Linked DNA regions of Homo sapiens. The protein of the gene in region 2 purifies or fractionates together with the protein of the main gene of each other region. This does not show direct contact. Each region holds a gene or a part of one and is shown on either strand. Other genes may lie near its edges.

What was found.
Region 1: the proteins of ZNF565 (region 2) and IPO8 purify together in Homo sapiens (co-immunoprecipitation; one large-scale study listed by IntAct). This does not show direct contact.
Region 3: the proteins of ZNF565 (region 2) and IPO7 purify together in Homo sapiens (co-immunoprecipitation; one large-scale study listed by IntAct). This does not show direct contact.

The regions. Positions count from the first base shown.
Region 1 is NC_000012.12:30,664,704-30,668,372, forward strand, and holds part of IPO8 (importin-8), read right to left. Parts: intron 1,549-3,669; coding exon 1,472-1,548; intron 1,143-1,471; coding exon 1,026-1,142; intron 607-1,025; coding exon 517-606; intron 1-516. UniProt on the Homo sapiens protein: Involved in nuclear protein import, either by acting as autonomous nuclear transport receptor or as an adapter-like protein in association with the importin-beta subunit KPNB1.
Region 2 is NC_000019.10:36,194,070-36,197,738, forward strand, and holds part of ZNF565 (zinc finger protein 565), read right to left. Parts: intron 1,088-3,669; coding exon 961-1,087; intron 260-960; coding exon 164-259; intron 1-163. UniProt on the Homo sapiens protein: May be involved in transcriptional regulation.
Region 3 is NC_000011.10:9,391,149-9,394,817, forward strand, and holds part of IPO7 (importin-7), read left to right. Parts: intron 1-3,669. UniProt on the Homo sapiens protein: Functions in nuclear protein import, either by acting as autonomous nuclear transport receptor or as an adapter-like protein in association with the importin-beta subunit KPNB1.

The DNA of each region.
Region 1 (3,669 bases), on a different chromosome or scaffold from region 2:
ACAAATGAAATAAAACCAGCAGGAAATAAAATCCATAAATATTTTCCTTTTTTTTTGAGACAGGGTCTCACTGTTGTCCAGGCTGGAGTGCAGTGGCACGATCTCAGCTCACCGCAACCTCCGCCTCCCGGGTTCAAGCAATTCTCCTGGCTCAGCCTCCCTAGTAGCTGGGATAACAGGCGCCTGCCATGAAGCCCAGCTAATTTTTTGTATTTTTGTAGAGACAGGGTTTCACCATGTTGGCCAGGCTGGTCTCAAACTCCCGATCTCAAGTGATCCGCCCACCTCAGCCTCCCAAAGTGCTGGGATTACAGGCATGAGCCACTGCGCCCAGCCTATAAATCTTTTTCTTTAATAGTCTGTCCTTTATTCAGCTGATGTGACCATAGGCAGACATTCTAATTGACTCTATTTCATCTCAATATGTGGCAAAAGGTCAATTTATCCAAAAAACATTTATTTGAATAATTATCTTATGAAGATTTAAGATACATAACAGAAATATGAAAAACTTACTCTAGCTCGAAGATATCCCAGGTTAGACAATAATAATGGAAATACATGATTTTGTAGAAACAGCTCCATTTGGTCCTTGAATAAACTCTTCTATTAGGAAACAAATTTCAACTTATCAATTTCTTTTTCATACGTAAGAATCACTTCCTAATCAAGTGTGTTTACTATGACTTGCATTTAATATACTTCTAATTTTGTAAAATTATTTGACCTATATATTGCATGTTTTAAAACAAGACAAATATTACCTTATATCAGTTTGATATTGATTGATTTTGTAGACATAAGATACTTTGTATCCCTTTCACATATCAATAGTTTCATACTGAAAACTTTAAACAGTCAAATTTTCTTTTTAATTAAAGAAATAGATGACAGAAAGGAGGATAGTTGTGAACTCAATTATCCAGAGGTAGTCACCAGCTTTAAATTAGCCATAACTTTCATATTCTCTCATTTGCCTGTACTTTACAATGTTATTAAGTAAATTAAATTTTGATTATCTTAACCTTCAGTAAAATCTCAGCTAGGGAACCAATCACATGCAGGGCTCCATCTTTCTTCCTAGGGTCAAAGTTCGGGTCTGTCAGGATTTGATAACAGAATGCCATCATTTTTGGCAACACCTAAAGAAACAGAAGAATCCATTTAGTCTACATGAACTTTCATTGTCTTACTATAGTATTAACTATGATGCACAAATTTTTAAAAATAAAGCCATTTTATTATGTTTTATCAAGCAACTATAAGCTCAATAAGAAAAGTATAATTTATTAAGAAAACGAAATAACCATGATACCCCCTTTCCCCTCACCAGGAGAGGAAAAAAAAAATCCTTAAGGTGACAAATTATAACGAATAACAACATAATTTCTCAAATACTAGGGATATACTAGAGTATCAACTCAACACAGGCCACCTTTCAGTTTTGGATTTAAAAAGAAAAATGAAATACCTCTTTTCTTTTCTTTGCAGCAGTATATAAGAGAGTCTGGGCTGCTGTGGTGGGAGAAGCATAATCTTCAAAAATATCTAAGATTTTAAAAGGTTAAAACCATGTTAGTGAAAATATAATTACTTATTCTAGATTTTAAACCTGACTGACCGCTATTCCAAACCAAAAAAATAAAACCATCCACATATGACACTGCTTGACAGTACTAAAAAGGTAAGGATATACAGTGGCACCACAACATTGCTGTCTCCTGCACAAAACAATGTTCCTCAAACTCTACAGGTTGTCCTTTCAAACTATTATATTGAAGAAAACAATGCATTTACACATCTGTTTCACTGAGAACAGAAAAAGTGCTTTATTTCTATCAAAAAACAACAAAAATTCACTCAGCTCTTACTATGTGCCAGGTACCATTCTAGACCCCGGGGATACAAAGATCAAACAAAAAGGTTCTCACGGAGCTTATGTCGTGAAACAAAGAAACACATTATACATATATACACACATAATAAGTCAGGCTAAGAACAAATGTAAAATAGGGTAAAGAGACAGAGTGACAGAGTATGGGGTGCTAGTTTAAATAGGGTGTTAGCAAAAGCCTCTCCAACTCTGTTAAGGTAACATTTAAGCAGAAATTGAATGAAATGAGGGAGAAAGCAATCCATGGATAAAGTACTCCAAGCAGGTGAAACAGCAAGTATAAAAGCCTTGAAGGACTGCTAGGACCATGCCTGGCTCTGTCGATACGTAAGTTCAGCAGGTTTTGTTGAATATATACCTATCTAAAACTTAACATATCACTTAATACCATGAACATTTTCACAAGTTTCAGAATAGGCAGTTTTACATAAGAAACTGAAGTCTTGAGAGGTATCTGATAAGTCCTTGTTTAAATACAAAAGATAAAACCAAATCTAAGTCTACCTCAAAATATAAAATACAAACATAATAAGAACATTTTTGGAGTACTGTACTTACTCTGTGCCAAGCAGTATGCTACAGTTTTAGAAGCATCTTGTATTCTATGCTAAGCAGTTAGTTCATGTGTATTATCCCATTTAATCCTCCCAGCACTATTATCATCACCCGTTTGACAGCTGAAAGCACTGAATTTTAGAGAGGTTAAGTAACCTGTCCACAGTCACACAGCAGGTAAGTGACCAAACCAGCATTCACACCCACGCTATCTTAACATCAAAGCCTGAGCTCTTGTTAGTTCTTACCAAATCAAAAAACATTATTGGGGGAAGTGAGGAGATGTTGGTTAAAGAGTAGATAAAAAGAATAAACTAAAACATTATTATTAATCAGTCAATACATTTAGATAGGAATGCTTTGTTTCACGTAAATAATTGCAAGTGCCAAACATATAAAAAGAAAATGCAGTAATTGTTCTTCCCTATGGTTACCCAAAAGTAAAATACACATATCAAATAAAAGCCACTGCATTCCAGTCTACAGAAGGAAACGATTAAAGAAAACTCACTTCAGCTAGTCAGTCTTGAGTTACCCATATCCGCTTTTAAACAATAAAATGTAAATTCCCACTGTTAATCAACAGACATAGAGTTCTTATTTTCTAAAAACTAGGGTATGTATACCTATCTTATCAGATATGAAGAATATATAAATAATGGTAACTTTCTGAAAGCTAAACAAATACTCTGTACATCACAAAAACACATAGGTATTATGAAAGAAGTAAACACTAAAAGAATGCCTTGCAAGGCAAGAGGATCACTTAAGCCAGGAGTTCGAAACCAGCCTGGGAAATACAGGGAGACCCTGTCTCTGCAAAAAATAATTAGCCAGGTGTGGTGGCACATGCCTGTGGCCCCAACTACTTGGAGGCTGAGGTGGGAGAGTCACTGGAACAAAAAAAAGAGAGAGAGAGAGAGAGAGAAGAATGGTTGGCTAATCACTCAAAGCAAACTAGAAAAACAAAGGCATAAGAAAGGGGAAATAATAAGTTACACATATGAATAATGATTTTCAAAAGAAAAATAACAAATCAAGCAGATGATAAATGTTTCTCATTGATTTGCTTTTCTGATACTTTGTCTCCAAGAGAAAACAGGATCCTCACTTACTGAATCAAATAATATAAACACAAAGCTCTGTAAAAACACAGCCCAAAAAACTAGCATCTGTACCAGTAGGTTTAGCTTACGTAGCTAGACACACCTGGCTCAACT
Region 2 (3,669 bases):
TCTTGGAAGCTGACGCTAATAAAGTCTTTACTCGCCACATCTTCACGTTTCAGGCCTTTCTTCCACAGTAGGGCTTTGAGGGAACTTCCCACAGTAACTCAAGTTACTCCTGTCAGTCGACTCATCCAGGGACCTTCCCCTGTCGAAATCGGCCCTCGCTTACCTGGGCACCATGGTCCTGTCACATCATTTGCAATCATCCAGGGCTCTTTCCCTTGCTCCAATAAGGAGACGACATCAGGCTTAGAAATGGAGAGTCCTGTTTACAGGAAAAGAAATGGGGTGTGATCAGACCGCTCCAAAATCCAAACCCAGTTCCCTGGTCACCATGGAAAAGACGCAATTACAAGGTAGGTGGAAGGTTGTCCAAAGGATAGGAAGACCGAGCTGCCCAGCAGAATGACTTGTTTCTAGTTCCACAAAGCACAAAACAATTTTTCAGTCACCAGAAATTCAGTCAGAAACTTGTAAGTTGCCCTAGAAATTCATAATGAAGAAACCAGAAATTCCAGAAGGGTAGTCCTGAATTATGTGGAGTAAATGTGTGGTGATCACTCTCCATGAACCCCTCCTTCCCCTCCAATCTATTCCTTGATGCTCCTGGCCTTGTTCTGTGCCCAGCTCTGGGATCCCGACAGCTCACCGTAAGGACTGCATTACCCATGCCCTATGGCTTCTCATTGGCTTTGGCAGACAGAAAGCATCAGCTGGAGATCAGTGGACAGGAGGAGAGAGAGCACCAGGCATTTCTTACCCTCCTCTCTCCCTCCTTTGACCCAGGAGCTCTGGAAGTAGCTACAGCTATTGCTGGCCGGGCCTCTCTCTATGGCTGTAGTTTGTAGCGTCTCCTGTGACAGTTTCCTCTCCTCACCCATTTAGGCAGAGATGGAAACTGCACCCCATGGTTGTAGTCCCTGTTGCCTTGCTTTCCGTCTGGCCCGTGTGATACAATCTCCTTACCTAGTGAGGCCAAGTGACCAAAGTTCTCCAGAGTCACCTCCCTGTACAAGTCCCTCTGAGCAGGTTCCAGGCACTTCCATTCTTCCAGAGAGAACTCTATGGCCACGTCCCTGAATGTCACCAGTCCCTGAAACAATAAACCCACGCATTAGTGTACATTAAGAAACTTTTTTCATTTATTATGAAAATTTTCAAGATGCACAAAAGTACAGAGAATAGTTGACAGTAATGGCCCCCCGATATGCACCAGTCTGCTTCAACAGTTAACAAGGTGTACCCTGTTTTATCTCTTCCCTTCTATCTTTTATTCCCCATGTACTGTGAGGCAAATCCCACATGCCAAACATCATAATACTTCACCCACAGATACTTTAGTATCCAACAGATTATCAACAACTTCTCTTAGAAAAACACATAATAATCAGAATATCATTATCATACTTAATAAAAGTATCAATAATTTCCCAGTCAACAGATTAAATTCTAATTGCCCCAGTGTTCTCAATTTTTTTTCTTTTCTCTTTTTTTTTTTGAGACAGAGTTTTGCTCTTGTTGCCCAGGCTAGAGTGCAATGGCACGATCTCAGCTCACCACAACCTCCGCCTCCTGGGTTCAAGTGATTCTCCTGCCTCAGCCTCCCGAATAGCTGGGACCATAGGCGCGTGCCACTGTGCCCGGCTAATTTTTTGTATTTTTAGTAGAGAAGGGGTTTCATCATGTTGGTCAGGCTGGTCTCGATCTCCTGACCTCATGATCTGCACGCCTCAGCCTCCCAAAGTGCTGGGATTACATGCGTGAGCCCCGTGCCCAGCCCACCTGACCCATTTTAAATGAGGTTAAAATTGATGAGTAGGGTCAGGTTTTGACAAGCTAATTTATCCAGGAAATATCTTAATGAGAAGATGAAGAATTTTTTTTTTTTTTTGAGACAGAGTCTCGCTCTGTCACCCAGGTTGGAGTGCAGTGGCACGATCTTGGCTCACTGCAACCTCTTCCTCCTGGGTTCAAGCAATTCTTCTGCTTCAGCCTCCTGAGTAGCTGGGATTACAGGTGTGCGCCGCCACACTTGGCTAATTTTTATATTTTTAGTAGAGATGGGGTTTCACCATGTTAGTCAATCTTGAACTCCTGACCTCATGATACGCCCGCCTTGGCCTCCCAAAGTGTTGGGATGACAGGCGTGAGTCACTGCACCCAGCCTAATTTTGATTTTTAATATTTTGTTTGGTAGAGACAGAATCTCACTATGTTACCCAGGCTGGCCTCAAACTCCTGGTCTTAAGTGATCCTCCTGCCTCAGCCTCCCAAAGCACTGGGATTACAGGCCTGAGCCACTGCACTCGGCCAAGGACATTGGAGGAGATGAAGAAGGGTACTGGAGGAAGGAGGTAATGAAGCATGACAGAATCTACAGCTGCAGGCCTGTGGCATGAAGGAAGTATAATAAGCACAGTTATATGACTAGAGGTCTATATATTCTTGAGCATTCCTGTGGCTACACATAAACTATCTGCAGACAGCAGGACACTTCTATCTTCCATGGTCTGGGAATGATCAGGAAAGAGCTAAGTGGGGTCCCATAAATAAGCGAAATAGTGAAATACACAAAACACACAGCAAACCTGGGCCTGGCAAATCTAATGTCTTTCAAAAATGAGTCCAGGCTGGGCGTGGTGGCTTATGCCTGTAATCCCAGCACTTTGGGAGGCTGAGACGGGTTGATCACTTGAGGCCAGGAGTTCAAGACCAGCCTGCCAGCTGGGCACGGTGGTAATTCCAGCACTTTGGGAGGCTGAGGTGGGTGAATCACCTGAGGTCAGGAGTTCGAGAACAGCCTGGCCAACATGGCGAAATCCTGTCTCTACTAAATACAAAAAATTAGCTGCGCGTGGTGGCAGGTGCCTGTAATCCAGGTACTTGAGGGGCTGAGGCAGGAGAATTGCTTGAACCTGGGAGGCAGAGGTTGCAGTGTGCTGATTTGTGCCACCACACTCTAGCCTGGGCAACAAGAGTGAAACTCTGTTTAAAAAAAAAAAAAGAAGTCCAGCCTGGTCAACATGGCAAAACCCTGTCTCTACTAAAACTACAAAAAATTAGCCAGGCGTGGTAGTGCACACCTGTAATCCCAGCTACTTGGGAGGCTGAGGCAAGATAATAACTTGATCCCCGGAGGCAGAGGTTGCAGTGAGCTGAGATTGTGCTACTGCACTCCAGCCTGGGTGACAGAGCGAGACTCTGTCTCAAAAAAAACAAACAAACAACAACAACAACAACAAAACCCCCAAAAAAGAAATTAGCTGGGCATGATGGTGCGTGCCTGTAGTCCCAGCTACTAGGGAGGCTGAGGCAGGAGAATCGCTTGAACCCGCGAGGTGGAGGTTGCAGTGAGCTGAGATTGCGCCACTGCACTCCAGCCTGGGCGACAGAGCAAGACCCCATCTCAAAAACAATATAAATAAATAAATAAGAATGAAAGAAGGAAGAGAGAAGGAAGTTAGAAAGGAGGGCAGGCAGGCAGGCAGAAAGACAGAGACTGTTATTGGTTGCATAATATCGTATGTTATGTCTTGTAAGATACGTCGATTCCATTATTTTCGTGCACTTAGCTTAATTAAGATGTGTATGTTAAAGTGGCTTATATCTAAAAGAGAGGCAATAACAAATGCTAGTGAAGACGTGAACAGAAGGGAACCCTTGTACACTTTGTTG
Region 3 (3,669 bases), on a different chromosome or scaffold from region 2:
CAGCACTTTGGGAGGCCGAGGTGGGCGGATCACAAGGTCGGGAGTTCGAGACAAGCCTGATCAACATAGTGAAACCCCGTCTCTACTGAAAATATGAAAAATTAGCCGGGTGTGGTGGTGGGTGCCTGTAATCCCAGCTACTTGGGAGACTGAGGCAGGAGAATCACTTGAACCCGGGAGGCGGAGGTGCAGTGAGCCAAGATCACGTCATTGCATTCCAGCCCGGGCAACAGTGCAAGACTCTGCCTCAAAAAAAGAAAAATAAAATAAAAGTTCTGGCCGGGCATGGTGGCTCACGCCTGTAATCCCAGCACTTTGGGAGGCTGAGGTGGGTGGATCATGAGGTCAGGAGATCGAGACCATCCTGGCTAACATGGTGAAACCCCATTTCTACTAAAAATACAGAAAATTAGCTGGGCATGGTGGTGGGTGCCTGTAGTTCCACCTACTCAGGAGGCTGAGGCAGAATGGCATGAACCTGGGAGGCAGAGCTTGCGGTGAGCAGAGATCACACCACTGCACTCCAGCCTGGGCGACAGCAAGACTCCATCTTAAAAAATAAAATAACATAAAACTTCCTAGTTGGAAAGCATAAAAATAATATTTTAAAATTATTTTTATTGTTATTATTTTTTGAGACAGGGTTTCACACTGTTACCCAGGCTGGAGTGCAGTAGTATGAACATGGCTCACGGCAGCCTTGACTCTCCTGGGATTAAGCTATCCTCCTGCCTTAGCCTCCCAACTAGCTGGGACTACAGGCGTGCACCACCACACCTGCCTAAGTTTTTTATTTTTTGTAGAGACGAGGTCTGTCTTTGTTGCCCAGCCTTGACTCCCAAGTGCTAGAATTACAGGTGCGAGTCACTGCACTTGGCTTATTACTGTTTTTTTAACAAAGGCAGAGGGACGCAGTGAAGAGCCTTAGCCTTGTCCTGAGTCTACGACTATAATGACTTAACCTCACTATGCCTTATATTTCATGTAGCCAAGGTAGATGTCATATTTGCCTTTGTCAAATTCTTTTTTTTTTTTTTTTTTTTTTTGAGACGGAGTTTCGCTCTTGTTGCCCAGACTGGAGTGCAATGGCACAATCTCGGCTCGCCACAACCTCCGCCTCCCGGATTCGGGCAATTCTCCTGCCTCAGCCTCTTGAGTAGCTGGGATTACAGGTATGCATTACCACGTCCGGCTAATTTTGTATTTTTAGTAGAGACGGGGTTTCTCCATGTTGGTAGGCTGGTCTCGAACTCCCGAGATCCGCCCACCTTGGTCTCCCTAAGTGCTGGGATTACAGGTGTGAGCCACTGTGCCCGGCTTGTCAAATGCTTTAGTAACAAGAAAGGTTAGAAGTTCCTTGGCTCTTGAAATTACCTGGTTGTATTTAATGTAAAAATCTGATAGCACGGGATTCTTCTACCTCCTGTGTTCCTTAAAAATGGTCTGAAGTATAGTAGCTAATTGAAAGTCTCTTTGGTTATATTTCAATGGAGAGAAATAATACAAAGTTACAGTTTTGGCCGGGTGCGGTGGCTCAGGCCTGTTATCCCAGCACTTTGGGAGGCCAAGGTGGGTGGATCATCTGAGGTCAGGCGTTTAAGACCAGCCTGGTCAACATGGCAAAACCCTGTCTCTACTAAAAATACAAAAATTAGCCGGGCATGGTGTTGCGTGCCTGTAATCCCAGCTACTCAGGAGGCTGAGGTATGAGAACCGCTTGAACCTGGGAGGCAGTGGCTGAAGTGAGCCAAGATTGCTCCACTGCACTCTAGCCTGGGCGACAGCAAGACTCTGTCTCAAAAAAAAAAAAAAAAAAAGTTACGGGTTTGAAGAGTATGTTTTAAAAGATACTGACATTAGTGATTACATTGGAAAATGTGGGTCCAGAGGGAAAACTGATTTTGAAGACATGAGTTACATACAGAGTGTCTAGTTTGAGGAGCTGGTAAACATCAAGTAGAAAAAGTCTAGCAGGCAATTGGAATGTGGAGCTGAAGTTTAGGAGAGAAAGCAGCAATGGAAAAGTGATATTCTTCTGCAGGCAGGTGATTACAGTAGTATGATCCAAAGGTATGGGATGGACTAGAGGGCTAAACTTTCAACCATGCCTATTTTGGGTACTTTGATAAACATCTGAAAAAGCAGACTGGAGATTTTGGGCATAAAAGTAAGAGAGAAGCCAAGAAAGATAATTTTAAGAAGGTTGCTTGTGGTTAGTGGTTAGTTTCCTTTTTCTTTTTCTTTTTTTCTTGAGACGGAGTCTCACTGTTGCCCAGGCTGGAGTGCAGTGGCACAGTGACAGCTCACTGCAACCTCCGTCTCCTGGGTTCAAGCAGTTCTCCTGCCTCAGCCTCCCTAGTAGCTGGGATAACAAGGCAACCACCACCACGTCCGGCTAATTTTTTTATATTTTTAGTAGAGAAGGAGTTTCATCACGTTGGCCAGGCTGGTCTCGAAGTCCTGACCTCAGGTGATCCACCCTCCTCGGCCTCCCAAAGTGTTGGGATTACAGGCGTGAGCCACCACACCAGGCCTAATTTCCTTTTTCTTACATAGATTTAATAAATTCTCTACCAAAGAGCATGAATTACTTTTGAAAATGAGTAAAAAATTTTTAGAAAAAAGAAAGGGGTGTTGATACTCCTAAATGAGAGAGGTTAAACAAACTGAAGACTTTCTGGGAAAATGCATTAAAGTATCAGTAACCTTGGAAAAGTAATTTCTAATTTTTTTCTTTTAATTTTTTTATTTTTTTGAGACAGTCTCTCTCTGTCTCCCAGCTGTAGTGCAGTGGTGCTATCTCGGCTCACTGCAACTTCTGCCTCCCAGGTTCAAGTGATTATCCTGCCTCAGCCTCCCAAGTAGCTGGGACTACAAGCGTGCGCCACCACGCCCAGCTAATTTTTGTATTTTTAGAGATGGGTTCCACCATGTTGGCCAGGATGGTCTCCATCTCTTGACTTCGTGATCCGCCCTCCTCGGCCTCCCAAAGTGCTGGGATTGCAGGCGTGAACCATCGCCCCCAGCCTTTTAATTTTTAAAATTATTATTAATTTTCCACGCAGTCAGAGGGGAAAGCAATTTCTGATTACAGTGTTAGTGAGTGGAATGCTAGTAAGGGGGCAGGGATAAGATTGTAAGTTAAAAGGGTGGCCATATTGGGAAATTCGTTGATGTGAGAGTGTGCGTTTTTCTTTTTCTATTTTTTAAAGTTGAGCTTATTTTGGGTGGCAGAGAAAGCAGCAGGGAAGCTTGGCTGTATAGTAGAATAGGGGCCTAGGTTTTTGAGGCCTGTTGCTACTACCTGTTGTACTAATAGTTTTTCATTCATGTTTTATAGTCATCATTCCTTGAATTACATTCTTCATTACATTCTTCACAGTGCTTCAAGAACTCATTTTCCTATAGCATAAATCTGATCATGTATAACCCTTCACAAAAAATTCATACTCTTTAAATTTTTTGGCCACAACCTACCAATTCATTTTTATCTTTCACTGTTCAAAGTCTTCTCTGATTTCTGAGTTTACGTCCCTTAGGTTCTAACTTGAAATTTTACTTATTAGCCCAATTGGAATTAAACTCCCAACATAACTTCATACTGATCTTTTTTTCTCCATAGTGTCTGGCGCATTGTCAGTACTAGTAAGTAGAATGGAGTTGGGTTTG